Linked DNA regions of Homo sapiens: regions 1, 2, 3, 4, 5 and 7 are each reported to be linked to region 6. Evidence: microRNA targets listed by miRTarBase, many of them from high-throughput screens and not tested one by one. Region 6 holds a microRNA gene; each other region holds the end of a gene's coding sequence.
Evidence for each region. The annotated mature microRNA hsa-miR-497-5p reads CAGCAGCACACUGUGGUUUGU and lies in region 6 at 1,363-1,383, shown strand. An mRNA with a match to its seed (bases 2 to 7 or 8) in the 3' UTR can be bound and repressed. Matches are read on the target gene's strand: a 7mer-m8 pairs with bases 2 to 8, a 7mer-A1 pairs with bases 2 to 7 and ends in A, and an 8mer does both.

Region 1: miRTarBase lists PLAG1 as a target of hsa-miR-497-5p. The part of its 3' UTR that is shown has no 7-base or 8-base seed match.
Region 2: the mRNA of RPRD1B is a reported target of hsa-miR-497-5p. Seed matches in the 3' UTR shown: 7mer-m8 at 2,160-2,166, 7mer-m8 at 2,163-2,169 and 7mer-m8 at 2,204-2,210.
Region 3: the mRNA of ANLN is a reported target of hsa-miR-497-5p. Seed matches in the 3' UTR shown: 7mer-A1 at 1,085-1,091.
Region 4: the mRNA of TMEM161B is a reported target of hsa-miR-497-5p. Seed matches in the 3' UTR shown: 7mer-m8 at 3,146-3,152.
Region 5: miRTarBase lists AHNAK2 as a target of hsa-miR-497-5p. Seed matches in the 3' UTR shown: 7mer-m8 at 2,903-2,909, 7mer-m8 at 2,900-2,906 and 7mer-m8 at 2,897-2,903.
Region 7: the mRNA of ITGA2 is a reported target of hsa-miR-497-5p. Seed matches in the 3' UTR shown: 7mer-m8 at 1,229-1,235 and 7mer-m8 at 2,714-2,720.

The regions. Positions count from the first base shown.
Region 1 is chr8:56,162,670-56,166,747 of GRCh38, forward strand. PLAG1 (PLAG1 zinc finger) reads right to left here. Exons shown (of 5, transcript NM_002655.3): 5 at 1-4,078. The coding sequence ends at 3,574. Among named protein-coding and RNA genes, the nearest start is that of PLAG1, 47 kb to the right of the region's middle. RefSeq lists an enhancer at 4,000-4,078.
Region 2 is chr20:38,089,448-38,093,525 of GRCh38, forward strand. RPRD1B (regulation of nuclear pre-mRNA domain containing 1B) reads left to right here. Exons shown (of 7, transcript NM_021215.4): 7 at 279-2,917. The coding sequence ends at 428. Among named protein-coding and RNA genes, the nearest start is that of RPRD1B, 58 kb to the left of the region's middle. RefSeq lists a silencer at 3,460-3,754.
Region 3 is chr7:36,452,326-36,456,396 of GRCh38, forward strand. ANLN (anillin, actin binding protein) reads left to right here. Exons shown (of 24, transcript NM_018685.5): 24 at 152-1,466. The coding sequence ends at 275. Among named protein-coding and RNA genes, the nearest start is that of ANLN, 64 kb to the left of the region's middle.
Region 4 is chr5:88,192,469-88,196,546 of GRCh38, forward strand. It overlaps TMEM161B (transmembrane protein 161B), which reads right to left. Exons shown (of 12, transcript NM_153354.5): 12 at 2,579-4,020. The coding sequence ends at 3,743. Among named protein-coding and RNA genes, the nearest start is that of TMEM161B, 74 kb to the right of the region's middle.
Region 5 is chr14:104,934,741-104,938,818 of GRCh38, forward strand. AHNAK2 (AHNAK nucleoprotein 2) reads right to left here. Exons shown (of 7, transcript NM_138420.4): 7 at 2,513-4,078. The coding sequence ends at 3,323. It also overlaps a transcript of PLD4 not described here. Among named protein-coding and RNA genes, the nearest start is that of PLD4, 12 kb to the left of the region's middle.
Region 6 is chr17:7,015,284-7,019,361 of GRCh38, reverse strand. It overlaps MIR497 (microRNA 497), which reads left to right and starts at 1,340; the gene lies at 1,340-1,451. It overlaps BACC1 (BPTF associated chromatin complex component 1), which reads right to left. Exons shown (of 6, transcript NM_174893.4): 3 at 3,487-3,588; 4 at 2,677-2,867; 5 at 2,348-2,452; 6 at 1,842-2,101. The coding sequence ends at 2,097. RNASEK-C17orf49 (RNASEK-C17orf49 readthrough) reads right to left here. Exons shown (of 8, transcript NR_037717.1): 5 at 3,487-3,588; 6 at 2,677-2,867; 7 at 2,348-2,452; 8 at 1,838-2,101. It overlaps MIR497HG (mir-497-195 cluster host gene), which reads left to right. Exons shown (of 3, transcript NR_038310.1): 2 at 1,974-2,293; 3 at 3,348-3,544. It also overlaps MIR195. RefSeq lists enhancers at 634-803, 2,155-3,354, 3,767-4,078.
Region 7 is chr5:53,089,883-53,093,882 of GRCh38, forward strand. It overlaps ITGA2 (integrin subunit alpha 2), which reads left to right. Exons shown (of 30, transcript NM_002203.4): 29 at 64-180; 30 at 637-4,000. The coding sequence ends at 717. Among named protein-coding and RNA genes, the nearest start is that of MOCS2, 18 kb to the right of the region's middle.

The DNA.
Region 1 (4,078 bases), not on the chromosome of region 6:
AAATATTGGCCTATAATATGTGTATTGCTCACTAGATGAACGATCCTGAAAATATGTACTCTTTAACATTCATTATTAGCTTAATAAAGCAATCGGCTCTGGCTCATGTTTCAGTCAGTATATGGTTTTTAAAAACCGCTACTGTCCAAATTAACACAATATATCACTATATTCCACAAATGACTAAGAAAAATAAAGCACAAGCAACAAATAGGCAAAAATACACAGCTTGAAAGAAACACTAAATGAAATAAAAAAGTTGCACACAGAGTGATGCATAATCAGCCAGGACAATTGAAGTTTTAAAAAACTGAACTTGGTAATAGGATTTTAAAATGAAAGTTTTAACAGTGATCGATAACTATAAAGGTACTTGTATACATCAATGGATAGCATTGCTTACAGTGCCAAGATCCTTCCACACTCACACTTCCGTGTTTGGTGACCTAACTTGTACATACATGTGGAAGTGAAACTGAATGAGGTTCAATATCTTGTCTGAGGCCCAAATTCTAAACTACTTTTATTTAATGTTAATCCCTTTTTTTTTTTTTTTTTTTTTTTTTTAACCAAGCTAAGGCACTACCAGAAATTTCAAGGATAATGATTCTGGCCACTAGAGAATGAAAACAGCATTGGCAATACTTATTTTTAATCATATCTAGTTGACATAGAAACAAACAATCTTTTTCTAGGGAAAAAAAAGCCAATTCTGTGTTACATCCTTGTTAGAACATTGTGCAATTCAAATAAGCGAGTCTGCCTCATCTTTAATAGAAATTCTCTCAAAAAGGGTTTAGTGACCACTACAGTCAATTTTAAAAACAAATTAGCTGAATTCCCTCTTACTCTGAAGTGTTATTTCAAGTCTGGGGGTGGGAACAGGCAAAGAGGTGTACACATGAAAATTAAGACTCCAAAATTTTAACACTGGTGCCCTGAAGATGTGCCTCCATGTATTTGAATTTCATGCAGGGCAAGATTTAAGTATGTGTGTGTGTGTGTATATATACACACACACACACACACATACACATACATACATATATGGCGCTATTCCCCATTTCCAAAATGCTTTACTTAATAAATCCTGGTACTCCCTTTTTTAAATTAGCAGTGAATACAGCCTACTAAGGCCAATGTCTCAGTTCACTAATTTGATGACTTCTTAAGTACATTTTAAACAGAATAAAGTAGTGCTTCCACACTTGCTATTTGTGATTTCTATTTAAAAATAGGTTTTCTATTTGTGCTCTGTCACCAATTTTTTTCCTTTTATATGGTGATTAAAGCAATATTGAACACTAATCATTCAACTAAAGATTTAGGTAAGCAATCTGTTTCATAGAAACTAAAGGAAGCAGTAATGAAGCAGAGCGAAAAGCCTACTTTCAGAAAAAATATTCTCCTAATCAAAAGCTAGGAGCAGTTTGAAAAATTTAAAAATGTACTTCCTTATTAACATATATAATTTTAATGCCTTTGGAACACACTTTTTTAATAAATGTAATTTTTCATAATAAAATTTAAATACATAAGTATAAAAACTACTGCTCCAAGGATTAAAAAAATATAGGAGCATGATAAAATATCAGGAGCCAAAGCTCCTTCAGAGAGCAACTTTGATTCTATGAAGTGCGGTATGTGTGCATGTGTGTGTGTGTGTGTATTATATATATATATTGAAGCCCCCATTTACATTATTACAATTTACATTTCTCCACAAATTATACTACTCCCAAATATTTTAAATAATGTATTATATTCAGTAATCTGCACTCATTTTTAGAAATTCTTGGTAAACATTGCAATCTGCAGTGATAACTGGCCCTACAAAAAGGAAAGAAGTTTCCATATAGGGCTAATGAGTGCTCAGAAATATTTTTCTTTCTGTTTTTTTTTAAAGAGATATATACTCTTCTAAAAACCTCCCACCCTTGCCCCCATCCCCAACGGAAAGGGTCCTAAAATAAGGTGTTAACAAGTGCTTAATAGATATGTTTCTTAGGTTAATGTCCCAACTGACCCTTAGAAAAATATATTAATTAGACCTTTAAGAAGATTATGTTGGTTGTCTAATGTGAGGAAAAGCCTATAATTATTCAGTGAATATAATATATTCTCAATTGTTATTTTCATGTTAACCAAGATAGGTTTGTTTTACTTTACTTTGTTACCCTCTACAAACTCAACTTATTTGCAATACTCCTATCATTTCCCAGAGATGCATGAAAGTGGGATTTTACTGTATATATTTCTAGTCACTTAAAACTTTGTGGTAGTTCATCAGGTAGTTTTCTAATGCATTTAACTTCAAATTCTCCATCCAAAATATTGCAAGGAAAGATGGATTCACATTGAATCAGAAAGATAACATCGGAGTAGGACTGTTGTTTTTGTTTTCTGCTTTTGATTCTTAAGGGAAAGAAAAACATATCAAATTCAGCAAGAAATGATATAAGCGATATGCTTTTACTTTACTTCTAAAAAGTCCAGTTTTTAACCCTGGCTACAGGGGCCATGATCCCTACACAAGTTCCCAAATGTAACCATGTGCTTCACGTCTATCTTCCTGCTTAGAAGTCTGTCACCCACAGAGGCTGAGTCAATCCACTGTGGGATAAACACACCTCATGGCTGCAGTTCCACAATGGCTCTAGATTATGGACTAACCGTGGGCCAACAATGAAAATAAATTGCTGGCTGCACTTGACCCACCCCTTGGATGTGAAAGGTGGAAAAGACTAAAGAGATCTACCTATATATCGACTCTGAAGACCCCAATGCCATACACTATTACTATTATTAAATGAAAAGATAGCATGTTAAGAAGGATGAAACACGACAAAATATCCTGTGTACTAATTTAGGGCCAACTATTAAGTGACACGAAATGCCATGTCACCTAACAGAGTCTCTTTTTGCTATAAATACTGATGCTTTGTGTTTAGGGTTTGTTTTCCTTAAAGGCTCATAATAAAGATGGCAAATATTTTAGCCAGACAACAGGGAGTCTTCAGAATATACTGATCTGAAATTATGGTGTATCTAACAAACATTTATTATCTTCCGAAACTGGACTCTTAATTCATTTGAAGCACTTGATTATTAATCCATTTAGAAGCTAGTAAGAAAATTTAAACCCTTGAGTTATTCACAAACTTTTTATACAATTTACATTCTATTGCTAAATTTTTTAATGAGCCAGATGTCAAAAGGTAGAGCCACTGTTATTAGACAAAAATGAAAATTTTAAGATCTAAAAGTAATTTGAAAATGGGATTTGTAAAAGTTTACTACTAATAATGGCTTTCCTATATGGAAAAAAAAAAGTCTTAAAATGTGACAATTGGCAGTGAATCAGGACAAAATACCCAGGTAAACTTAACTGAACACAAATGGTTCCAAAGCTCAGTTTAAAAGCTAGTTTCTATTTTATACTGGCTTAATGAAAATTTGTATTATACAAAAGCAGAAATTTTTATACTGTTTTAAAGTAGGCACTAAAATAAAAATGGTCATCTAGGGCACAGCTACACATACATTTCTGTAATGAATCCATGTCCCAGAATCCTACTGAAAAGCTTGATGGAAACGTGGGAGGGTGGTACTTGTGCTTAAACTGCTGGTGAAAGCTGCTGACAGTGAGTGCAGAGACCCAAGCCCTATAGTGTTTGCAGGATCCTGAAGATCCTGTGTTTGTGGGGGGAGCTGGGAAACAGAAGAATGTGCTTCTTCCTGGGAATAGCTCATTCCAAGGCTCCCCACTGATAGAGGATTATAGGGAGGACCATTTAAAGGTATGAAATTAAACAACTGAGAAAAATCCAATGCTGGTGTGTTTAGGGGGTCACTGATGGAGATAGAGCTTTTGGATAGGGAGAGGTCTCCTGCACCATCATCTAGGGACCCAATCTGAGGATCCAACCCTAGCTTAGATGATGACGATGCTTGAGAATCTTGGGATGAAGAGGGCACGCCACCTTGTAACTCCATCAGGTAACTCTCAATTTCCCCCTTTAATGGCTGTTCTTTTTCAGGAATAGAAATTGCATATGAGGTAGAACTGAACGGATAT
Region 2 (4,078 bases), not on the chromosome of region 6:
TACCAAGTGTTATTTCTTTCTACTTCCAAATCTCAAGCCCTAAATTGAATACCATTTAATTCACTGTTGCCAATATGGCACTCTGCGTTCCTTTTTTGATAGAAAGTTTTGCCTTTTGAGCATTTGAAGCCCTAGCTTTGTGATATAGCTGAACAGGGTGGGCAGGCTGGTGGGGACAAGGAAGAACACGAGGACGAGAGTAGCTGCCCGGCTCCAGCAGCACCCATGCCCTCGGCACGCACAGACTTAACGGTATTGTCTTCTCTTTATCTCCTTAGGAATACAAACAGAAGCTTGCACGAGTAACCCAGGTCCGCAAGGAACTGAAATCCCATATTCAGAGCTTGCCAGACCTCTCACTGCTGCCCAACGTCACAGGGGGCTTAGCCCCCCTGCCCTCTGCTGGGGACCTGTTTTCAACTGACTAGGATGGGTGTCATGTCCCAGATTTCTGTTTGTACCAGCAGAAAGAAGAGGGCAAGTCATGGTTGGAAATAACCTTCTAGCCCCTGGTTCTATCCCTTCTTCCGCCCAGCCCCCCAGCCTCAAGAAAGAACCTCAGACTCTGATTCTCCTCTTCAGCCTCTCATCTTGAGCACAGTTCAGAACAGTGGCGACTGGAATCTGGTTTATATTCATATTTGCAAAGACTACAGACTTTTTCTCCCACTTCATATTTTCATGCCCCCCTGTTGGTTTTCCATTCTTAACTGTCTCCTTATACCTAAGAAGTTATGAAAATCATGTGTACTTCTGGAAGCTTTCGAAAGAATCTTGTCCCTCATGACAGCATTTTATCATGAAAGCAGCTTCTCCTTTCTGGGCTGGGCTTGTTCAAGTTCGGTGTGGGCTTCCACTAAGGCACTTGTCCTGGAGACGTTGGCTTTCCCAGCTGCATCTGCCCCAAAAGGTTGTAGGCACAGCTGTCGTAGCGTTGCCATAAAGAGTTTGCCAAATCTCTGATCCTCCCTTTCCATTGCTTCTCCTAGTGATGCACGAAGATTAGGTGCATTTATTTTGTAAACAGATTGGAGAATCTAGCAATAAGATTCAAAGCTAATCTGGAGCATAAAGGCACAGTTCAGAGACAGAATAACAGGGATCACAAGCATGAATTAAAAGGAATTTATTTGCTTCAAGTTCCTAGATACAACCTTCCCATGCTGCACTTCTCCACTGTCGGAGCACGTTCCGAAAAACAGAATGCCTTGATCCCTGGTGGGTGCGAAGGCAGTTGTTAGGGATGGCAGGCATTGGTGGGCTCCAAAAGATGAAGGCCCCACACACAGGTGTGCTGCATTTGGGATCTGTGTGGGTGTTTCTTGGACCCTTTCTTCTGGGAGTAGGGTACACACTAACGTTTAATCCGCTGTCTGGGTGCATGTCCACAGTACGGTGGCTAAACTCGAACATCACTGCAAATAGGACGCTGAGCAGGTCCGTCTGTCATGTCACGCCACTGCACAGGTCCTTGTCCCCACACGACGGGGAGTACTTGCGTCAGATGTTATTGAATAGCTCGTCTCGGGCAGGGGAAGCGGGGAGTTGGGGATATTAATTGGGGGTTTTAATTCTATTATCATGTCAGCTGACATTATGACTATATAATGTAGTTAGAGACAATTTTTATCTTGCTTATAGTAAAGGTTCAGCCTGCCAATTGTAAATCATTCTAATTTGGCAGGCTTATTTTTGACATTGGAAAGGGCAGAAAGCGATTTGCCCCAGTAGTGTAATAGGAGTTATAGACCAGAGGCTGAAACCCAAACTATATAAAAAGGAATTCAGTGGAGGGGGCTTTGTAATCTCCATTAATTTGTGTTGCTACTTCCAGGATCACCAAAAATTACATGTAATTTTACATGTTAAACACATTGAAACATAACCTATGTTTATAAAGCATAACGGGCTTCCCTTCCAGAAGCTCTCCTGCTTGTCATGAAGTGAGAACAATGAAAAGTCATAGCAGATACTCAGTTTAACTCTGTGTAGAACCTAGTAGTGTTTGAGCTGTTATTCAGATTTGAATTCAGACTGTGTGTTGTTTGCTTATGGACACTGCCTGTCGTTCTGTCACTGTTAAATTAATGAGTCTATAAGGTTTTTCTTCCAGAGGCCATAGGTGACATCACTAAAATTGCAAGATAAATTGTAATCTTTGCTGCTGCTGCACTCCCCAACCTCTCCCCCACCCCCCGTGGTGTGCTGCTTTCTAGATGAGCGTGTTTTGGAGCAGGCCCATCTGGGACACTCTATGCTTTCACCAAGGAAGTGCGATCTGAGCAGCCACAATCCAGCCAAAAGAGGATCGTAGATATTTGCTCTGATCAACTAGATGAAAATATAGCAGAATGGATTTAGCCCACTGCTCTGTTTTATCCAACTGAGTCTCTGACCAGCAATTGGTGCATAATTATTACAGCAAAAGTTAAGAAATGAAACTGTAGCAATTATGTAAATGAATGTGTTGGCCTCTTAATACCTGTTACTAGTGGACTTCCTGTGAGGAAGTTAGTTTTTTGTTTTGATGAAATGCTTTCGTTTTTTAAATCTTAATTCTGCTGTCCACATCCTCCCAAAGTGTGCTTACTTCATTTGTTTAATTTAAATGAACTTTCCTCCTTGTATGTATGAGGTGACTTGGTGGGTGGGGTGGGTGGTTTTTGTTTTTGTGTTTTTTCTTTCTTAGGGCATCTGTAGGCCTCAAAGGACCTTTCCTTTAGGTCATATTCCTCAGAAAGTCTTCAATCTTCCCTTGTTTTTGTTTGTTTGTTTTTCTTAAAGAATATTTTCAAAGCTTAAATTTGTATATTAATTTAGGACTATTTAGAAGTATAGGCTGTCGTTGGCGGCAGCAGTATATTCTGAAATGTCTCATAGATATATATTTTTGAATAAAGATGGTGTTGTTGAACAACATTGTGTGATTTTTTTTTTAAACTACCCTGTTACTGAAAACAGTGCCTTTCTTTGTAAGCAGTGGGTGATTAGTAATCACCAATAGAGAATGTGCTGTCGGCACAGAATCTTGTCCCTTGGGAGTTTTTGTGTCTGTTAGCGGCACATAAATACTCAGCATTTACGTAGTATTTTCTGGTTCTTTCCAGGGGCTTAATTAGCTTTAATTAGGCAGTCCACACAGTACCCATGAGAGGTGCCGCCATAGTTTTACCCTCATTGTACAGAAGTGGGAACTGATGGAGAGAGATTAAATGACTCTTCCCCCATACTTCACAGCCAATCTCTGACAGATTAAAACTTGGAAGTTCTTTGATTTTAGCGCCTTTGTTCACACCAGTAGGCCTCCTGAGAGCGATTTGATTTTGGCAGTACACGGAAAGCCACGCTGAACAGTAAAAAGACGAAAAATGTGAGATAATTGCGAACCCAAGTGGTATGTCTCTTAAAAACAGTCATGGCTTTGCTTTGTCCTTTTCACTTGTACATGGAGTGAAAGCATATTGACTGTGTATTGCTGGTTAAAGCTCTCAAAATAACAAAAATGATTTTGAATTAGGTCCTTTTGAAGCAAGTGATATGTTTGGAAGGATCATAAACCTGTCCACTGGGTAATGGCAGCATCTGCCAGAAGAAGTGGGGTTATCTTATGGTGCAAAAACCTCTGTAGTAGGTGTGGTTCATCAAGACTGCAACCCAGATAAGTCCAGTATTAGGAAAATTGAGACTGCATTACCCAAGTTCTGTTAAAATATGAAAGTTGGATGTTACATGTGAATCTCAAGAGACAAGATCTCCTTCTGTGTCCCCAGATTTCATGGTCTAATTTCTTCACTCCTCCCTATAAATAGTAAGTCCATGATTCTTCTGGTTTAATTAGCACTTCAGGCTACAAAATGACTTTGAGGTCTTCAGAGCTGAAGATGGAGCTACCCAAGAGTCCATGAATCTGTCAAAATGCTTATCCTTTGTGACTAGAGCCATTAACTCTCTGTGTCACCTTCCTGGGCAAGGTATTTTCCTCTCTGGGCCTCAGTTTTTTCTTTCTTTTTTTTTTTTTTTTTTTTTTTTTTCTTTTTGAGACAGGATCTAACTCTTGCCCAGGCTGGTGCAACCTTAG
Region 3 (4,071 bases), not on the chromosome of region 6:
ACTAAGTGGCTGTGGATTAGCATCCATAAAAGGTGGTTAAAGGTAATTCATTTACTGGTTTATTTAGTCATTTTTTTCCCTAGCAAGAGTACATGGGGGTATGGAATGGAGGGAGAAGAATTCTGACCTCTTTGGTTGTTTGTTCCTGTAGGAACTGGCTGTCTGCAGATACTAAAGAAGAGCGGGATCTCTGGATGCAAAAACTCAATCAAGTTCTTGTTGATATTCGCCTCTGGCAACCTGATGCTTGCTACAAACCTATTGGAAAGCCTTAAACCGGGAAATTTCCATGCTATCTAGAGGTTTTTGATGTCATCTTAAGAAACACACTTAAGAGCATCAGATTTACTGATTGCATTTTATGCTTTAAGTACGAAAGGGTTTGTGCCAATATTCACTACGTATTATGCAGTATTTATATCTTTTGTATGTAAAACTTTAACTGATTTCTGTCATTCATCAATGAGTAGAAGTAAATACATTATAGTTGATTTTGCTAAATCTTAATTTAAAAGCCTCATTTTCCTAGAAATCTAATTATTCAGTTATTCATGACAATATTTTTTTAAAAGTAAGAAATTCTGAGTTGTCTTCTTGGAGCTGTAGGTCTTGAAGCAGCAACGTCTTTCAGGGGTTGGAGACAGAAACCCATTCTCCAATCTCAGTAGTTTTTTCGAAAGGCTGTGATCATTTATTGATCGTGATATGACTTGTTACTAGGGTACTGAAAAAAATGTCTAAGGCCTTTACAGAAACATTTTTAGTAATGAGGATGAGAACTTTTTCAAATAGCAAATATATATTGGCTTAAAGCATGAGGCTGTCTTCAGAAAAGTGATGTGGACATAGGAGGCAATGTGTGAGACTTGGGGGTTCAATATTTTATATAGAAGAGTTAATAAGCACATGGTTTACATTTACTCAGCTACTATATATGCAGTGTGGTGCACATTTTCACAGAATTCTGGCTTCATTAAGATCATTATTTTTGCTGCGTAGCTTACAGACTTAGCATATTAGTTTTTTCTACTCCTACAAGTGTAAATTGAAAAATCTTTATATTAAAAAAGTAAACTGTTATGAAGCTGCTATGTACTAATAATACTTTGCTTGCCAAAGTGTTTGGGTTTTGTTGTTGTTTGTTTGTTTGTTTGTTTTTGGTTCATGAACAACAGTGTCTAGAAACCCATTTTGAAAGTGGAAAATTATTAAGTCACCTATCACCTTTAAACGCCTTTTTTTAAAATTATAAAATATTGTAAAGCAGGGTCTCAACTTTTAAATACACTTTGAACTTCTTCTCTGAATTATTAAAGTTCTTTATGACCTCATTTATAAACACTAAATTCTGTCACCTCCTGTCATTTTATTTTTTATTCATTCAAATGTATTTTTTCTTGTGCATATTATAAAAATATATTTTATGAGCTCTTACTCAAATAAATACCTGTAAATGTCTAAAGGAATCAGTTGTTTAGGAAGCACTGTTTCAATGTGTGGCATGGTTGCTCTGCATCCCTGGGCTGGGAGCTTCTTGAGGGTACTGTGCTGACAATGTCTCATCCATCTTTTTCTCTCTACCCAGTTTGGCTTATTGTGTGTTCTTAGGGCTGCTATTGAATGCATAAGTGAATGAAGGATCTATTTCTGAGGCATTTCAACTGAATATGGTAATTGGATGTGCATTTGAGGATAGGGAGTATAATTCCCAAGTCTTTAGCAGATACTGAATGGATGAGTGATATCATCAGCCAAACAGGGAATAGGTTTGATGGGACTGATAAGAAGGTCCCTTGTATTTATTTATAGACTTGCATTTATTTTTGAGTAGGCATTAAAGGGCACAAAAGCTTGGTACAAAATTCAGAATGCATAAAGAAGGTAAAGTTAAAAAGCAAGTCTTTTCCTACTGTCATAACTACTTTTACCAATGTTTATGTCCTGCCAGAGGCCACTACACATATTGCATACAAATATTTATATTCTTCTGTTCATAAAAATATTCTATACATACCATTTATTGTAAGTTAAACAAAAAGTATAACAGTATTCCTTAGAGATCATCTAAATATATAGATAGTATTTATAAAATTCAACTTTAGAAGAAATTTAGCTTAAGGTGATTGTGGGACCTCAAGCTAGAAATACTCCGTAAACAGTAGAAAATGTCACTCTGAAGATTTCCAGTGTCATCTGCCTAAGGGGGATTGTTGAAACTATTGGAGTGAATAAGATCATCCAGGGAATATGATGTGGGAAGAGAAGAAAGAGAAAAAAGAACACTGTTCTTTTTTTTTTTTTTTTTGAAACAGGGTCTCACTCTCTCCTCCAGGATGGAGTGCAGTGGCACAGTCTCGGCTCGCCGCAACCTCTGCTTCCCGGGTTCAAGTGATTCTCGTGCCTCGGCCTCCTGAGAAACTGGGATTACAGGCACACACCACCATGCCCAGCTAATTTTTGTATTTTTAGTAGAGGTGGAATTTCACTGCGTTGGCCAGACTGGTCTTGAACTCCAGACCTCAAATGATCCTCCTGCCTCGGCCTCCCAAAGTGCTGAGATTACAGATGTGAGCCACCACGACTGGCCTGAACACTGTTCTTAAGGGGAAAAGTAGAAAAGACAAGTCTAATGATTGTCTTCTATGAAAGAAAAACAAGAATGGTGTCTGGTGAGACCAAAGAAGAAAAGATTTTGGCCGGGTACGGTGGCTCACACCTGTAATCCCAGCGCTTTGGGAGGCTGAGGTGGGTGGATGACCTGAAGTGAGGAGTTTGAGACCAGCCTGGCCAACATGGTGAAACCTTGTCTCTACCAAAAATATAAAAAATTAGCTGGGCATGGTGGTGCGTGCCTGTAATCCCAACTACTTGGGAGGCTAAGGCAGGAGAATCACTTGAACCCAGAAGGCAGAGGCTGCAGTGAGCCGAGACTGTCTCAAAAAAAAAAAAAAAGATTCTGACCACAAAATCATAAAGCAGAATAAAGAAAATGTGAATTGAAATTTGGAGCAGTCAGTTGAACAAAATGGTTCAGATAAAAAATCAGATTACAATAAAATCTGTATGGAAAAAGAATGACAGAATTGATTGCGTTAAAAAATCTGATAAATATCTAGAGTCAAAACACTAAGCAACAGACAAAGGGAGAATATTTATAACATATTTAATAAGGCATTGATAAAAAACAGAGCTCCTATGCAAGTGTAGTGGCTCATGCCTGTAATCACAGCACTTTGGGAGGCTGAGATGGGAGAATACTTGAGGCCAGGAGTTCAAGACCAGCCTGGGCAACATAGCAAGGCCCTGTCTACAAAAAAAAAAAAAAAAAAAAAAATTAGCTGAACATGTTGGCACATGACTGTAGTCTCAACTACTCGTGAGGCTGAAGTGAGAGAATTGCTAGAGCCCAGGAGGTGAAGACTACAAGTGAGCTGTGATCACCCCACTGCAATCCAGACTGGACAACAGAACGAAACCCTGTCTCTAAAAAAAAAAAAAAAAAAAACCTCAAAATTAAAAAAATAAAAAGAACCAACAAGTGGTTCACTGTTATCACATTGGGAATTAAGTAAAAGAAAAACAAAAGAGCTCCTATGACTGGCTATCTGTGAGCATTTACTATGTGCCAGGCGTTATTCTTGGTGTTTTGCATGCAGTATCTCAGATCATCTTCATAAGACCTTATCAAATAAGCGTTGAAGCTAAAGTTTTGCTCACTTTTCTGAGGTCCCACGTTGAGCAAGTGGCAGACCCAGATTTGCACTCAGTCTACTCCAGAATCCACATACTTACACTCTGCTGTTTCTCAATAAGAAAAAGAAAATTTAACCTAAAGAAGAGGGGCAAATAATATTAGCAGGAATTGCATACACACAAATCCAAAGAGCCGGCAAACATGTAAAAATAATACTAATAAAAATACAGATTTAAATGGCAATGGGTTATTGGCCCACAGGTGGTGAAACTATAACCAACATTATTGAGAAACGAACTTACGCTCTTGGTGGGAATAGAAACTGAAACAGCCTACTTGGATGGCAACTTGGTAACTTAAACAGGAATCTACTAACA
Region 4 (4,078 bases), not on the chromosome of region 6:
TTAATCCCAAGATATCATCAAGCAAGACATTAGCTTTTTGACCATCCTTGGTGTCCATGTCAGAGTCTTCATGGCACATAACGAGCTCAGCTCTAAACCCAAGGTATGAACATAATAAGATGGATAGGAGTTAAAAGATGAGATGGTACAAGTATTCGAGACACTGGGTTCAAGCTCTAGTATCACTAGTGTGTTTAAATCTGATTCCTTAAGACACCTAAATCTTTGCAAAGACACAGGATGATCTGCATTTAAAAATCACTTAGTTTTATTTTGTTGAATAAAGCCATATACCTTGATAGAACATCTTCAATTAAGTGATGGCTCAGAAACTGTATATGAATTCAGAGAATGTTGAGACCTTAGGCTTCAAAATACTGAGAATTCAATCTTTCATTTGAAAGAATAATATCTATCCAGTGAAGTTCCAATTATAGATTTCATAATGAATTCTATTTATTGCTTCCTGGACCTGTCAATTCCATTAATGGATGAATATCTCTTCTGAATCATAACTGAGGAAGAAATGCCACTATTTTACCAATGATATTTATATCAGAAACAATAAGACAATGAGCCCATTCTGCTTGTATGCATTGGTCATTTTACGCACATCAATTGGGATTCTGGGAAAAATACTGATATAATAAAAATGCACATGGATATTAAGATAAAATTATATGCTTTTCATTTCAGACAAATCAATGGGGGTAGGAGGAAGAATACAGCTCTGATTTTATAGTGCAATGGCTAGCAAGTGGGGTAGTCGGAAAGACAGGAACCAATAAATTGTCGCAATCCTACTAATCATACAAAACCAAGATTATAAGGGCAAACACATACAATAAAAATAACTTTATATATGCTTTGAAGCATATTATATTGACTAAAGTATAACATACAAAATAAAAGAACTATACTGGTCTAATTTGGGGATATTAAAATATTACTTGGTTTACATAAAGTACAAACTCTTTTGTATTTGAAGAACATAACTCTTGGTTCAAAGACAAAATGCATAAATAAACCAATTAGTTCAAATTTGCTTTGAAAGGCTAAAAAAACTAAACCAAACCTGTTACTTAAAATACTTGGTTTGCTCAAGCCAGAGTATACTTAGAGTTTAAGTTTAAAAAGAATGAATTAACAGAACTTTAGGAATATACATTATTCCATCCAATAATGAATTCTATGTCTTTTACACCATATTACTGCACTGTACAATCTTTGAAACTTAAAATAATAACTTCAATTTTACTTTTTAAAATGTAGCTCTTTGGTAAGAATGATTATAAATACCAGGTGAGATTCTTCCCTAGTCCAACATGTGAGAATTTTCAGATACAAAACAAATGTGAAATTTTGGTATCATCTTATTATAAAACAAACACATTTTGATGACGCTGATATATCTCAAAATATATTTGAAATGCTTCCTTTGGAAATACACATGAAGCGTCATTAGGATATATTCACAATTCATTTCAGTCAGTTTTATCCAGTTTAAGTACTTACTACTCAACTTTTTACATGTTTTATTTTAGTTTCAGGGCATACATGTGCCGGTTTGCTATATGGGTGTATTGCACAATGCTGAGGTTTGGACTTCCAGTGAACCCATCAATCAAATAGTGAACATAGTATGCAACAGGTAGTGTTTCAACCCTCATTTCCTTCCCACTTCCCCTCTTTTGGAATCCCTAGTGTCTACTGTTTCCATTTTTATTTCCATGAGTACTCATTGTTCAGCTCCCGCTTATAAAAGAACATCTGGTATTTCATTTTCTGTTTCTGAGTTAGTTCACTTAGGATAATGGCCTCCAGTTTCATCCATGTTGCTTCAAAGAACATAGTTTCATTCTTTTTTTACGGCTGCATGGTATTCTATGGTGTATACATACCACATTTTCTTTATCCAATCAACCACTGATGGCCACTTAGGTTGACCCCATGACTTTGCCACTGTGAATACTGCTTCAATAACAGATGAGTGCAGGTCTCTTTTTGATACAATGATTGCCTTTCATTTGGATTGATACCTAATGATGAAACTGCTCAGTCAAGTGGTAGTTCTATTTTTAGTTCTTTGAGGAATCTCCATACTGTTTTCCATAGGACTGGAAGTAATTTACATCCTCAGCAGTGTATAAGCATTCCTTTCCTTTTAAAACATGGCTATTTCCAAAATATTTAAATCTACACCCAAAGACAGGAATTTGCTATATTAAAATTTTCAGATGACTGTGAACCTTAAAAGCCCTGAAAGTTATTCCAAAAGAAGAGTTTCAAACTTGCTTTCAACAGTGTTAACAGCACTGAAACATAAAGACAGCCTCTTAAGAGTTATATGGAAAAGCATGTATTCATTTATTTGAAAAGACAAAAAAACTACCTTTATCTCTTACACATTTTACAATCTTGACCCTTCATTTTGAACTTTAGATGTAAAAGGCATCAAAAAGAGTTTTACTTTTTTTCATTTCCCTTGAATGTTTCATTCAAATTATCCGTTTTGGCCAGTAAAACAAAAATATTTCTAATTCTAGAAACTACAAATTTAAAACAAGTCCTATTTAACAAAGGCATACATGATACCTGTAGACCTGATTTGAGAGGGAAAGATTCTGATTTTTGGAAATGACAGAAAAAGAATTTTAATTTGGGAGAAACCATTAAGCGTCCATAAAACTTTAAATACACTCACACATAGGCAACACAAATAAATTGCTTACTCTGCTGAACTTTCAAAATGTATTTTAATCTCATTCCAAAAAGAAATAAAATTTCTAGATACAAATACATCTCATTCAAGTCACTTTTTAACATACATTCTGCAACTTAAAATATTATAAGGATTCAATATTTTCATCTTTTATAATCTCAATATATTATATATTTAATATATAATATATATACAATACATACAGGTAGTCAGCAGGTTTACAAAGTAATTTCTTTAAAGTCTGATCAGTATTGATAAATATTTTAGCCTATTAAAAGGAACTAGTTAGGATCACAGAATAAAACAAAATATGGCAGGTCCAAACCTAATGGCAAGATTACAAATGTTCATATGGCCAATCATTTTAAAAGAACTCTCAAGTTGGGTGGAATATGTTTTAAAACAATACTCTTGCTATTCTCAAGCAGCAGTAGTTATATATTTTAACCATATTCATCTCCATTAAATTTAAAATAACTATGCAGCTTTCTTTACTGTAATATACAGTAGCTATCTCTTCCTTTCTGTTGGATTTTATTGTTTCAAGAGTAACTAATAAATTACCAACAGAAGAGACTTTAGCCCCTTTCCCTCCCCTAAAGCATGGCTCAGTTTGAAGATTGTTCTATAGGCAGCCACTATGACTATCAACAGTACCATAAAACCATTAAAAGCAATCAATAACTAGAGTCATGTGAGATGTTTCAAAGACTGCTGGAGGTTTCTGTAAACCAGGGTAATCAGAAATATTACCCTTGTAGATAGCCCTCTCATACCAGTAAATACAAAGAGTTAAAATTCCAATGCCACAGTGTAACAGTTAACAATCTATTTTGTAATTTTAAATATTACTACATTAATTCACCCTGAGAATACAGAGGAAACATTTAATACAAGACATTCTGATATGTTTTTTTTTTCCCATTGTATTTGCTTTCTTCTGGTTTTCATCAGCCCTTTAAGGGCACAGATATTTTAATTTAAAGGGTGATTTGGATATGCTTTTTTGTTAACTGAGATTCATGCCACAGTCAGATACTGGTGATAGAAAAGCCCAAAAAGGCTTGTAGAAAAGAGGCAAGCAGCAATCCACCAGGTCAGAAAAGACAGAAGTCCTCGAAAAAGAAGAGGAGTAAAAATATTTTTTAAGCTGCTCAGTGCCACTGTTATTTGTGTAACAGTTACCTTCATTTTCCCTTCAGCTGATGGTAATTCAGAGTAAACAGAATTGGACAGTAGACTATTATCCACTGGTAAGGTAGAGATAGATTCTGGATAAATACCCCAGGAATGATTACCTAGAAAATCAAAGACACAAATACAATTTGAAGAGTAACTAATTACCAAGCTTTTTAT
Region 5 (4,078 bases), not on the chromosome of region 6:
TCTTCCTCTTCCCTCTTTGCTTTGGGGAAAGCTAGCAAAGTTCATCTCAGGTACAGTACAAGTTACTTTTCTGTTCGATTAGTGACCTCATACTTCCCCCATCTAAAGGACACCTTAGACTTCAGCATTCTGTCTGTGCAGAAATCTCCTACACCCATCCTGCCTCCCTGCCCAAGCTTGTGAAAAGCTTGCTGCAGATGCTGCAGGGGGATAGGGATCCACATAGCCCTGCAAGGCCTTCAGGAGCTTCTGGGGGCTGCTTTGTGTGTGAGCTGCACTTGGCCAAGCCAAGCTCTGGCAGTTGCAGTGGCTGCTCCCTGTGGCTTCCTATCCCTCATTCATGCTCCATATCTCCTCAGTAACCATCTGGCAAAAAGCTTCGTGGCAACACCTGGCTCAGAAGCCGATATCATCCCAGACTAAGCTCTGCCCTCCAGGGTTGCACGTGTGGGTTTGCTCCCTGGTTCTTGGCCTTATACCTGAATGTGTCTCAGAGCACTTGGCCTGCTCTCTTGGCCTGCCAACTATGTTCTAGGAGGGCTCTGTGCTCCAGGCTGTGATTTGGACAACTGGCTGGTGGCCCTCAGCCAGTGAAAGGCCTCTTTCCACACACCTGGGGACTGGCAGTCACACCTCAGTGGCACTGACAGAGGCCTGCTTCAAGGCAGATGCCTATTCCAAAGGAAATCCAGCTTGACAAGGCTTGGGAGACCCCAGGAGGGTGCCACAATGTGGCCCCTTCTGGGCTATAGCAGACAGACTCTAGAATGGCTCCCTTGACCCCCACCTGCTGGTATGCATGCCCTTGTGTGATCTCACCTTGAGTGTGTGCAGGACCTGTGCCTTGTTGTAACCAATAGAATACAGAGGTAAGGGGATGTCACTCCTGTGACACCTTGTGATCATGTGACATAAGATTATAACATTATCAAGGAATAGCAGTCTATCCCTTGCTAGCTTTAAAAAGTGAGCTGCTAGGCTATGAGCTGTCCTATGAAGAGGCCCATGTAGCAGGGTACTGGGGTTGCCTCCAGCCCCCAACTAGCAAGAAACTGGGGCCCTCAATCATCCCATCCACAAGGAGTTGAGTGTGGCTAGCAACAACGTGAGCTTCAGAAGTGGCTGCTTTCCTGGTCATACCTGAAGGGGAGACCACAGCCCCAGCTGACATCTTGATTGTAGCCTAATGGGACCTTGAGCAGAGAACCCAACAAAGCCACACTTGGGCTCCTGATCCACAGAAACTGGGAGATCATAAATGTGTGTTGTTTTAAGTTGCTAATTTGTAGTGATGTTCTTATGCAGCATAGATAACTCATACACAGAGAACCAAGGCCACGCGAGAACCCTGTGGGGGCCCCTGCTGCTCAGCCACTCCTCACATGCTGGGACAGCTGTCTCTCTGGCCTCTAGCACCAAGGTCCCCACTATCCCAGGCCTTGACTCTTGGATCAGAGAGGGACAAAAGCCCCATGGAGCCAAGCAGACTCCTCCCCCTGGGCTGCACTCACCTAGCTTGTCTGGCACACACAAGTTGGAGTAGAGAAGGCAGGAAGCCCTGGGAAGGGAGAGGGTGATGGCCTTGCTTAACTGGGATGAGTGTCCACCAAATTTCCCTTCCCACTTCCCCTGCTCATGAGCCCCCAGGGGACCTGTGTCAGTTCACTTTCTAGAGGCTTCTATGTGCCCTAACTTGGATGACACCCACGGGCCTCCCCAACTCAGCACAGGGAACATATGCCCATGGTGGCATGGGGAAAGAACCCAGCCTCTCCCCTGCCCAGGCTCCTGCACCCCATAGCTGTCACCCCTCTGGAACCTCTCAGGGCAGCACGAGTGGTAGCCTCGGAGTGGCCTTCACCCTCCAGGCACTGCGGTCCTCCAGATTGGCTCACAGCCCAGCTCTTGCTCCCATATCCACAGCCATGAGAGCAGCCACCTCCCCAGGGGGCCATAAGCGCTTCTCACCAGGAGCCCACCTAGGCCAGGAGGGAGCTGGGGGCAAGTTCCAACTGCCCCCTTGAACACTGCATACCCATGAATCTGGCAGGGGCATCTGGGAAGAGATTTGACCACTGAAAGACTGTAGGGAAACCCTTGAACCTCAATCCGCTACGCCACGTGGATTTGCTTCCTGTGGGCTGCCCAAGAGCGCCTCTGTGGTGAAGGAAGCTTCTGAGGATGGGCCACTAAAGATGGCCAAGGTCACCTTTCTGTGCTGTCCCCACTCTGCACTCCATCTCCCATCCCACACTGCCTCCAGCTGGAGGGAGGGAGGGAGGGTTGTACGTCTGTGTCCCTGCCACACTGTGAACTCAGCCCTATCTTCCTTGTCTTCCTCACAGCCTCTGGCTCAGAGGAGGACCTGGACAAATGGATGATAGGTAGGCAACCACCCAAATGTTCCTCATTGACTGTTCTCTAGAGCTGCTTAGTAGAGACCAGGAGTGTGTGGGAGGAAAGCCCTGGTAAACTTCGACCCTGAGACAGAAGACCTCAGCAGCCTTCAGCATGGGATGCAGCACTTTCTTTATTGCCCATCCAGGGAACAGCCAAGCCAGCTCCATCTGCATTCTGGCTGCAGCGTGTACATTAGGGGACTCAGGGGCCACAGTGTGGGACCGTGCACACTGGCAAGGCACTGGCGGATGCTGGCAGGCCAGTGGACATGGATAGATGAGAATGACAACTCACAGATGTCCTAGCTTCTGCTGGCCCAGCTGCCAGCCACTGGCCATCACCCTTTTGCCCAGCATGTGTGCATTGTCACCCAAAACATCTTGAAACTTGCCATTAGTGAGGCATTCAACAAAGAAGTAAGCTAAGTGAGTAGGAAACAGTGTTTCCTGGAATATACCGCACTCTGCCTGAAATAGGAAAACTATGTTTGCCGGGAAGCAGCAGCAGCAGGAAAGAAGTTATACCAAAAACGACTTGTACACCACAGACATTATAACCCTTTCCTCAAAGAAACAGTCATGTTCTGTTGGGTATTATGGACAGGTCTCTGGAAATTTATCTAATAAAGACCAACAAACTTCCCCAGCAGTGCCTCTGAGTACCGTGTGAATTCTGGTGTCTTGTGGAAGTCAGGGTGCCTTCTTTGCATCCAAAGCTTTGAGGGAGCTGGGAAGCTTTGGTTCCATTTTAGGAGGGCTGTGTGATGGTGACAAAGGTGTTCTGGTCATTTCTGCTCTGTTCTCCGTTCTGTGAAGTGAGGTGGATGTAATGTGCTGTGGGATGGGGTGCTCCATATGTGTGTGTAGCCTTTACTTTCCAACTTAGTTTTTTGCATCTCTCTTGTACTGATGAGCCATACCTCTCAGCCTTCATTTGGTCCCAGGCCTGACCCTTTGCTTTCATCGTCAGCTTTTCTGTCCTGCTCGGGCAGGATTAACTCTGTTCTTGCCGCGGATGTCACCATCACTCTGGAGTCCAGCCCAGTGCCCACAGGCCCGATCAGTTCACCCTCTTCCTTCTCTTCAGGGGAGAAACTTTCTCGGGCATCAAAAAACGTGATTGTTTCTTCTTGAAGTTTTTGTTCTTCCAGCTCTGCCCCATCTTCGGTGCTTTTGCTTTTCTTGGTAGGAGATGAGGAGAACCCTAATTTGGGAAATCGGAACCAGCCTGCCTTCTCCTGTTTTTTAGGCAGTTCTGCCTCTGGTCGTGCCTCAGGCTGTGTTTGAATGGGAGCAGATCTCTGGACGTCATTTTTGGAATCAACACCTGTCTCATCAACAGAAGAGGAAAACCCAATGTTTGGAAGCCAAAACCAGAGCAGACCAGATTTTTTACTTTCTGGTTTGTCTTTTGGAGCCCTGCCTTCATCTGCCAGTGGTGTGGTTGCCTCTTGGCTATCATCAGGGGGAAACTCAAGAATTTCTGCTGGCTCCTCATCTGAACAGCTGTCTGCAAGCTGGTGGCCAGAAGGAACTTCAAATGTGAGTGTTTGCTGTCCCAGTACATTGACGCTGGAAGAGATCATCTCAAATGGTTCTCCAGTGTCAGGCTGGAGATCTCCAGAAATGGAGTCTACTCCTGGGGTGGCTTGTATGGGAGCCTCTTCTGTGCCCTCCTG
Region 6 (4,078 bases):
GTGTCCTCTGTTTTCAGGAGAGACGTGGCGGTTGGGGGGGAGGTTTGGAGGTGCGTGCTGGGGTGGGGTTGGCTTTGTCAGTCTTGGAATTGGGGGGATGATTGGAGAGGCTTTCTCTTATACCCCTAAACTGCAGCCCCCCAGACGGAAACCAAAGGCTGAGACCAGAGAGCCCCCCAACATCCCCAGCCGTTAGGATAGTGTTTAATTTCTCTTTCACCCCCCACAAAGGCTCTGCCGAGGTAGGAGCTGGGGGCAACTGTTAGTTTGGGGGCTATGGAGGGTGGTGGAGGAGCAGGAGGCCTTGGCAAGATTTGATGGAGGGCAGATAGGGGTGTCCGGGAGGGGTCTGGCATCTTCGGGGGCCTAAAAAGACTGCTTACATACACCACCTTGGATCTTTCAGATTGCTAAGAGTTTTGGGGGGTGTGTCGGAAGAGGGGGTGGTAAAAGATGCGATGGGATATAGGAAGATAACTTCTGGATTTTAGGGGGTCATATTTTGATTTGCAAAAGGAGTTTTGGCCCTTGGATTTTGCTTTCTGAGGGGTGTTTTTAAAAAATCAAGTCCTGGACAGGAGAAAAGGGCTGAGGGAAGGCCTGGAGTTGGGGGTGGGGAGAGGCATGTTTGTCTCAGCTTAAACGTGGCTCTCTGGGGTGGGCCCGCCTGCCCTGGCCTGGTGGATGGGCTGATGGAGGTTGCTGTGGGGGCCGGCTCGGGTCCTCAGGGGCCCTGGGGAGTGGGAACAGCACTGGGGGTTGAATACCTGGCCCCCCAGGTCCAGATGGCCCTCTTCCTGGGCTCTGCTGCTCCCCTTCCCCCTGGTCTCCATTTCCTGCCTTTGGCCTCCATCTTGTGGCAGGCCCAGGGCCCAGGGCGACTTCCGGCCCCCCTCTCCCAACCATGTTCCGGCCCCACCACCTCTGGACTGCCAACTCCCAACCCTGCTGGCCTTGGCCCTCTGTCTCTCCTTGCTTTTCTCTTGGGTTCTGACCCAGGGAGAGGAAGGACGGACACAGGAAGCCTTGGGTCCCTGCCCTTGCTGAGACAGGAGGCAGTGTGTTGGCCCCTCCAGTCATTCCCTATTTCTTCTGCCTCTGACCCCACCCTAGGGATCCCCTGAGCTGAGTTCCTACAGAGGGAAGATGGTCCAATCTTACTACACTGTGAGCTCATCCCCATGGTCCGTCGCCTTCCAGTTGCCTGCTCAGCCCGTCCCTGGTTCCTCCCAAACGTTTTTGGGGGCCATGTTTGCCTTTTAAGGCTTCTCTATCCCCCCGCTCCTGGAGGTGGTGCTGGGGTCTTCCCAGCACTGCTATGTGCTCTCTTCCTTTCAACCCACCCCGGTCCTGCTCCCGCCCCAGCAGCACACTGTGGTTTGTACGGCACTGTGGCCACGTCCAAACCACACTGTGGTGTTAGAGCGAGGGTGGGGGAGGCACCGCCGAGGCTTGGCCCTGGGAGGCCATCCTGGAGAAGTGACACAAAAAACATCTGGGGCCTTGTGACAAACTTCTTGCCAGGTGGGCAAGGAGAGGGTGGGGTATGTAAGCACCCCTCTAAAATCTCCAGGGCAGTTTCAAGAATACTGATGGCCAGAGACCCTGGGAGTAAGTTCTGCCTCAAGAGAACAAAGTGGAGTCTTTGTTGCCCACACCCAGCTTCCCTGGCTCTAGCAGCACAGAAATATTGGCACAGGGAAGCGAGTCTGCCAATATTGGCTGTGCTGCTCCAGGCAGGGTGGTGAAAACTACCGAGGAGGGGCTGAGCCCCCATGGGCCGAGGAGAGAAGAGGGAACAGGCCTCTCCTGCTAATAATGTTAAGCAGACAGCACGAAGCTGAGAGGGAAATCTTTATTGTTTTCTGTATAAAAATGTCCATCAGATGAAGGTCAAAGGGGTTGGGGGCAGATGCTTATGCGGGAATAGCGAGGTGGCAGCCCCAGCAGCCTTTCAGCCCTCTCTCGTGCAGGCCTTGCTCGGAGTCCCAGGAGATCCACAGGTCCGGCATGAACAGTGAGAGGTCAGAGGTGGAAGGCTCAGCAGGAGAGGAGAGGAGGATCAGCAGAGGTCATGAGAAGGCCAGAATCCAGGGTCAGGCTGTCTGGAACAGGAAGTAAAATGGGCCGAGATGGAGCGAGCCCCCAGTGTGCTTCCAAGGCCACTCCCACCTCCCTGAAACACCCTGCTACGTACTGATCCAATGCCCTGCGCTGTGTATGAGAGCACCTTCTCTTCTGAAACCCCTATACAAGGGAGGGGCCCCTGCGGAGACCGTGCCCTGCCATCCAGGTGAGCCCTTTCTCCCCAACCCCGTCAGCTGTGTGGGAGGAGGAGGACTCCTACCCTGGTCGAAGTTGAGTTTCTTAGCTGGAGGAGTTTCTCCTAGCCCTTCAATATCCACCACGTCACTGTTGGCATCGGAGTCGTTCAGAGCACTGAGTGTCACATCTGGGAAGGGGGCATAAGCTAGGTTCTAGGTTCCCCTGACAGCCTCTCCCCCAGCCCCAAGCTTCCCAAAGCTTTGTGCCTCCTCTCCCCTCCCCTCTGCCCCTCTCTGGGAACCTCCACAGGGACAGGAAGAGAGACTGACCCTTCTTTGACCCAGGCCCAATTCTCTCACTAAACCTCAGATGGGACCTTTAACCCCTAGGCAGCAACTCCACAGCCCTCACCAGCCTTCTGTTTCTTTATGGGGGGACCCCCGGCCTCAGGGACACTGGAGCTGCTGGGAGGAGGGGCAGCTGGAGGAGGTGACAAGACACCAGATGCCACCTTCTTGGGCCCTTTCTTGGGTGACTCAGCTGGAAGGGGGATGCCAGAATCTTCATATACCTTGCGTTTCACAGTGGCCTTTATCTGGGCCCTGAAGAAAAGAGAGAAGAGGTTAGGAAAGGAGTCATCAGAGAGACTAACAGAAGAGGGGACGGGAGGGGAAGGGGTTCTGGGAGTCCCTTCATAAGAATCCAGGTCGGGGCCCCAACCCATTGGTAGGGTTCTCACTTTCTCGAAGTTTTACACTCACTCAGGATGGATGGAGTGTGGAGAGTGGAGTCCCTGAACTGAGTAGTGGGAAAGGCCCATCTCCTAATTCTCTTCTGGGAGAGACATCAGGTAGAGCTTGGTGATTTACAGGTGGATTGAGATTTACTGATCAACTAGTTCAGGGTCACCATATCCCTGGAAACACTGCAGTGGGGTCCTCAAACATTTATATAAATAACCAGGGGACTTCCATCATCAAATACAATAACAGCATCTCAGGCAACCTAAATTCACATTCTTGGAAGGATTACCACAGCATTTTAGGAACTTCTGACCAACTGTGACAATTCTATTCTTTCAGTCCTCAAGGGGATTCTAAAAAACTAGTGACAAAGTAGGGAAGCAGCTGAGCTGGAAAGGAGTTCTGAGGACGATGGAACCTTGGGTAAGGAGGAAGAAGGCTGCCCACCCGCCCTTTTCTGGCAGCCACCCTCCCTCACACTGTCCGTTCCTTGATGACACAGCTGATGTGATTAAGATCGTCCCCAAATCGCTTCACAGCAGCCCTCAGCATCTCTATTTCCGTCTCCGTCCACTTCGCACTGTCAGAAGGGGAGAGGGGGGATAGCAAAAATGGGAGGGGGGGTGTGGAGCCCGCCCACAGGCTATGCATCCCACAGCCAACCAGCCGCCTCCTTCCGATTTCTGGGACCCCTTCCACGGATGCATAAAGAGGTCCTCCGTAAGGGGAGGCGGAAAGCTCTTGAGGCCCTGCGGGAACCGGGAGGACCCCAATCACAAGAAATCACAACCACCTCCACCTTAGACACCCCTTTCCACCATCAACGTTAAACGGCTGCTGTACACAGCACACTGAAACCAACTCGCCAGGAAGGGCTTTTCAAAACAGACCCACCAACACAGCCTGCAGCCGTCTGGGGGAATTCCATGAACTGGGGTGGTTGGGAGTGGCGGTGGTTTGTGGTCGACCCGTTCGCAGCAGGGAGAACTGTGAAACAGGAGTCTGGGCTATGGGCCTGTCTGTATTTTTATCTGTCATTCATTCCCTCACCCAACGATCATTTATTAACA
Region 7 (4,000 bases), not on the chromosome of region 6:
CTAGACCATCTCCCCCCTTTTTTGTGGTATTAAAATAACTCAACTGTGAACTGACATTTCCAGATTCCCCTGATGATAATGAAACCTGATGAGAAAGCCGAAGTACCAACAGGAGTTATAATAGGAAGTATAATTGCTGGAATCCTTTTGCTGTTAGCTCTGGTTGCAATTTTATGGAAGGTAAGAAAAGCTTTATATTTTAAAATACAGGGCTCCTGAAGGCCAGCCTTGAATTTGCTTACAAAACATCAACTTCAGGTTTTATATGGTACCTTCTCTATCACAAGGAGAAAAGAAATGCAAATTTGTTTATAATTTCTTACTCATGTCATTAAAAACAACCAGTAAGGATTTTTCTTCTTTTAAACCTTCCTTTCATCCAGAGCCCTGAATGTTTTGTTCAGCTTCAAATAAGTAGACGCTGAAAAATGTAGCTTTATGCAATGCAGCTGAGCTCTCTGGATATAAATTTCCTTCTAGCAGGTGGTAGATATCAGGTCATCAGTCTGCACACCTCCCTTCAGAGCCTCAGGGATTCCCAGAGGTGCATCAGAGGACGTGGGCAGCCAAGGGGGTCAGAGGCACCTTACAAAATAAGCCACGGGTGGTAACATTCTTATATCATCACCTTTACAGCTCGGCTTCTTCAAAAGAAAATATGAAAAGATGACCAAAAATCCAGATGAGATTGATGAGACCACAGAGCTCAGTAGCTGAACCAGCAGACCTACCTGCAGTGGGAACCGGCAGCATCCCAGCCAGGGTTTGCTGTTTGCGTGAATGGATTTCTTTTTAAATCCCATATTTTTTTTATCATGTCGTAGGTAAACTAACCTGGTATTTTAAGAGAAAACTGCAGGTCAGTTTGGAATGAAGAAATTGTGGGGGGTGGGGGAGGTGCGGGGGGCAGGTAGGGAAATAATAGGGAAAATACCTATTTTATATGATGGGGGAAAAAAAGTAATCTTTAAACTGGCTGGCCCAGAGTTTACATTCTAATTTGCATTGTGTCAGAAACATGAAATGCTTCCAAGCATGACAACTTTTAAAGAAAAATATGATACTCTCAGATTTTAAGGGGGAAAACTGTTCTCTTTAAAATATTTGTCTTTAAACAGCAACTACAGAAGTGGAAGTGCTTGATATGTAAGTACTTCCACTTGTGTATATTTTAATGAATATTGATGTTAACAAGAGGGGAAAACAAAACACAGGTTTTTTCAATTTATGCTGCTCATCCAAAGTTGCCACAGATGATACTTCCAAGTGATAATTTTATTTATAAACTAGGTAAAATTTGTTGTTGGTTCCTTTTAGACCACGGCTGCCCCTTCCACACCCCATCTTGCTCTAATGATCAAAACATGCTTGAATAACTGAGCTTAGAGTATACCTCCTATATGTCCATTTAAGTTAGGAGAGGGGGCGATATAGAGAATAAGGCACAAAATTTTGTTTAAAACTCAGAATATAACATGTAAAATCCCATCTGCTAGAAGCCCATCCTGTGCCAGAGGAAGGAAAAGGAGGAAATTTCCTTTCTCTTTTAGGAGGCACAACAGTTCTCTTCTAGGATTTGTTTGGCTGACTGGCAGTAACCTAGTGAATTTCTGAAAGATGAGTAATTTCTTTGGCAACCTTCCTCCTCCCTTACTGAACCACTCTCCCACCTCCTGGTGGTACCATTATTATAGAAGCCCTCTACAGCCTGACTTTCTCTCCAGCGGTCCAAAGTTATCCCCTCCTTTACCCCTCATCCAAAGTTCCCACTCCTTCAGGACAGCTGCTGTGCATTAGATATTAGGGGGGAAAGTCATCTGTTTAATTTACACACTTGCATGAATTACTGTATATAAACTCCTTAACTTCAGGGAGCTATTTTCATTTAGTGCTAAACAAGTAAGAAAAATAAGCTCGAGTGAATTTCTAAATGTTGGAATGTTATGGGATGTAAACAATGTAAAGTAAGACATCTCAGGATTTCACCAGAAGTTACAGATGAGGCACTGGAAGCCACCAAATTAGCAGGTGCACCTTCTGTGGCTGTCTTGTTTCTGAAGTACTTAAACTTCCACAAGAGTGAATTTGACCTAGGCAAGTTTGTTCAAAAGGTAGATCCTGAGATGATTTGGTCAGATTGGGATAAGGCCCAGCAATCTGCATTTTAACAAGCACCCCAGTCACTAGGATGCAGATGGACCACACTTTGAGAAACACCACCCATTTCTACTTTTTGCACCTTATTTTCTCTGTTCCTGAGCCCCCACATTCTCTAGGAGAAACTTAGAGGAAAAGGGCACAGACACTACATATCTAAAGCTTTGGACAAGTCCTTGACCTCTATAAACTTCAGAGTCCTCATTATAAAATGGGAAGACTGAGCTGGAGTTCAGCAGTGATGCTTTTAGTTTTAAAAGTCTATGATCTGGACTTCCTATAATACAAATACACAATCCTCCAAGAATTTGACTTGGAAAAAAATGTCAAAGGAAAACAGGTTATCTGCCCATGTGCATATGGACAACCTTGACTACCCTGGCCTGGCCCGTGGTGGCAGTCCAGGGCTATCTGTACTGTTTACAGAATTACTTTGTAGTTGACAACACAAAACAAACAAAAAAGGCATAAAATGCCAGCGGTTTATAGAAAAAACAGCATGGTATTCTCCAGTTAGGTATGCCAGAGTCCAATTCTTTTAACAGCTGTGAGAATTTGCTGCTTCATTCCAACAAAATTTTATTTAAAAAAAAAAAAAAAAGACTGGAGAAACTAGTCATTAGCTTGATAAAGAATATTTAACAGCTAGTGGTGCTGGTGTGTACCTGAAGCTCCAGCTACTTGAGAGACTGAGACAGGAAGATCGCTTGAGCCCAGGAGTTCAAGTCCAGCCTAAGCAACATAGCAAGACCCTGTCTCAAAAAAATGACTATTTAAAAAGACAATGTGGCCAGGCACGGTGGCTCACACCTGTAATCCCAACACTTTGGGAGGCTGAGGCCGGTGGATCACGAGGTCAGGAGTTTGAGACTAGCCTGGCCAACATGGTGAAACCCCATCTCTAATAATATAAAAATTAGCTGGGCGTAGTAGCAGGTGCCTGTAATCCCAGTTACTCGGGAAGCTGAGGCAGGAGAATCACTTGAACCCGGGAGGCAGAGGTTTCAGTGAGCCGAGATCGCGCCACTGCACTCCAGCCTGGGTGACAGGGCAAGACTCTGTCTCAAACAAACAAACAAAAAAAAAGTTAGTACTGTATATGTAAATACTAGCTTTTCAATGTGCTATACAAACAATTATAGCACATCCTTCCTTTTACTCTGTCTCACCTCCTTTAGGTGAGTACTTCCTTAAATAAGTGCTAAACATACATATACGGAACTTGAAAGCTTTGGTTAGCCTTGCCTTAGGTAATCAGCCTAGTTTACACTGTTTCCAGGGAGTAGTTGAATTACTATAAACCATTAGCCACTTGTCTCTGCACCATTTATCACACCAGGACAGGGTCTCTCAACCTGGGCGCTACTGTCATTTGGGGCCAGGTGATTCTTCCTTGCAGGGGCTGTCCTGTACCTTGTAGGACAGCAGCCCTGTCCTAGAAGGTATGTTTAGCAGCATTCCTGGCCTCTAGCTACCCGATGCCAGAGCATGCTCCCCCCGCAGTCATGACAATCAAAAAATGTCTCCAGACATTGTCAAATGCCTCCTGGGGGGCAGTATTTCTCAAGCACTTTTAAGCAAAGGTAAGTATTCATACAAGAAATTTAGGGGGAAAAAACATTGTTTAAATAAAAGCTATGTGTTCCTATTCAACAATATTTTTGCTTTAAAAGTAAGTAGAGGGCATAAAAGATGTCATATTCAAATTTCCATTTCATAAATGGTGTACAGACAAGGTCTATAGAATGTGGTAAAAACTTGACTGCAACACAAGGCTTATAAAATAGTAAGATAGTAAAATAGCTTATGAAGAAACTACAGAGATTTAAAATTGTGCATGACT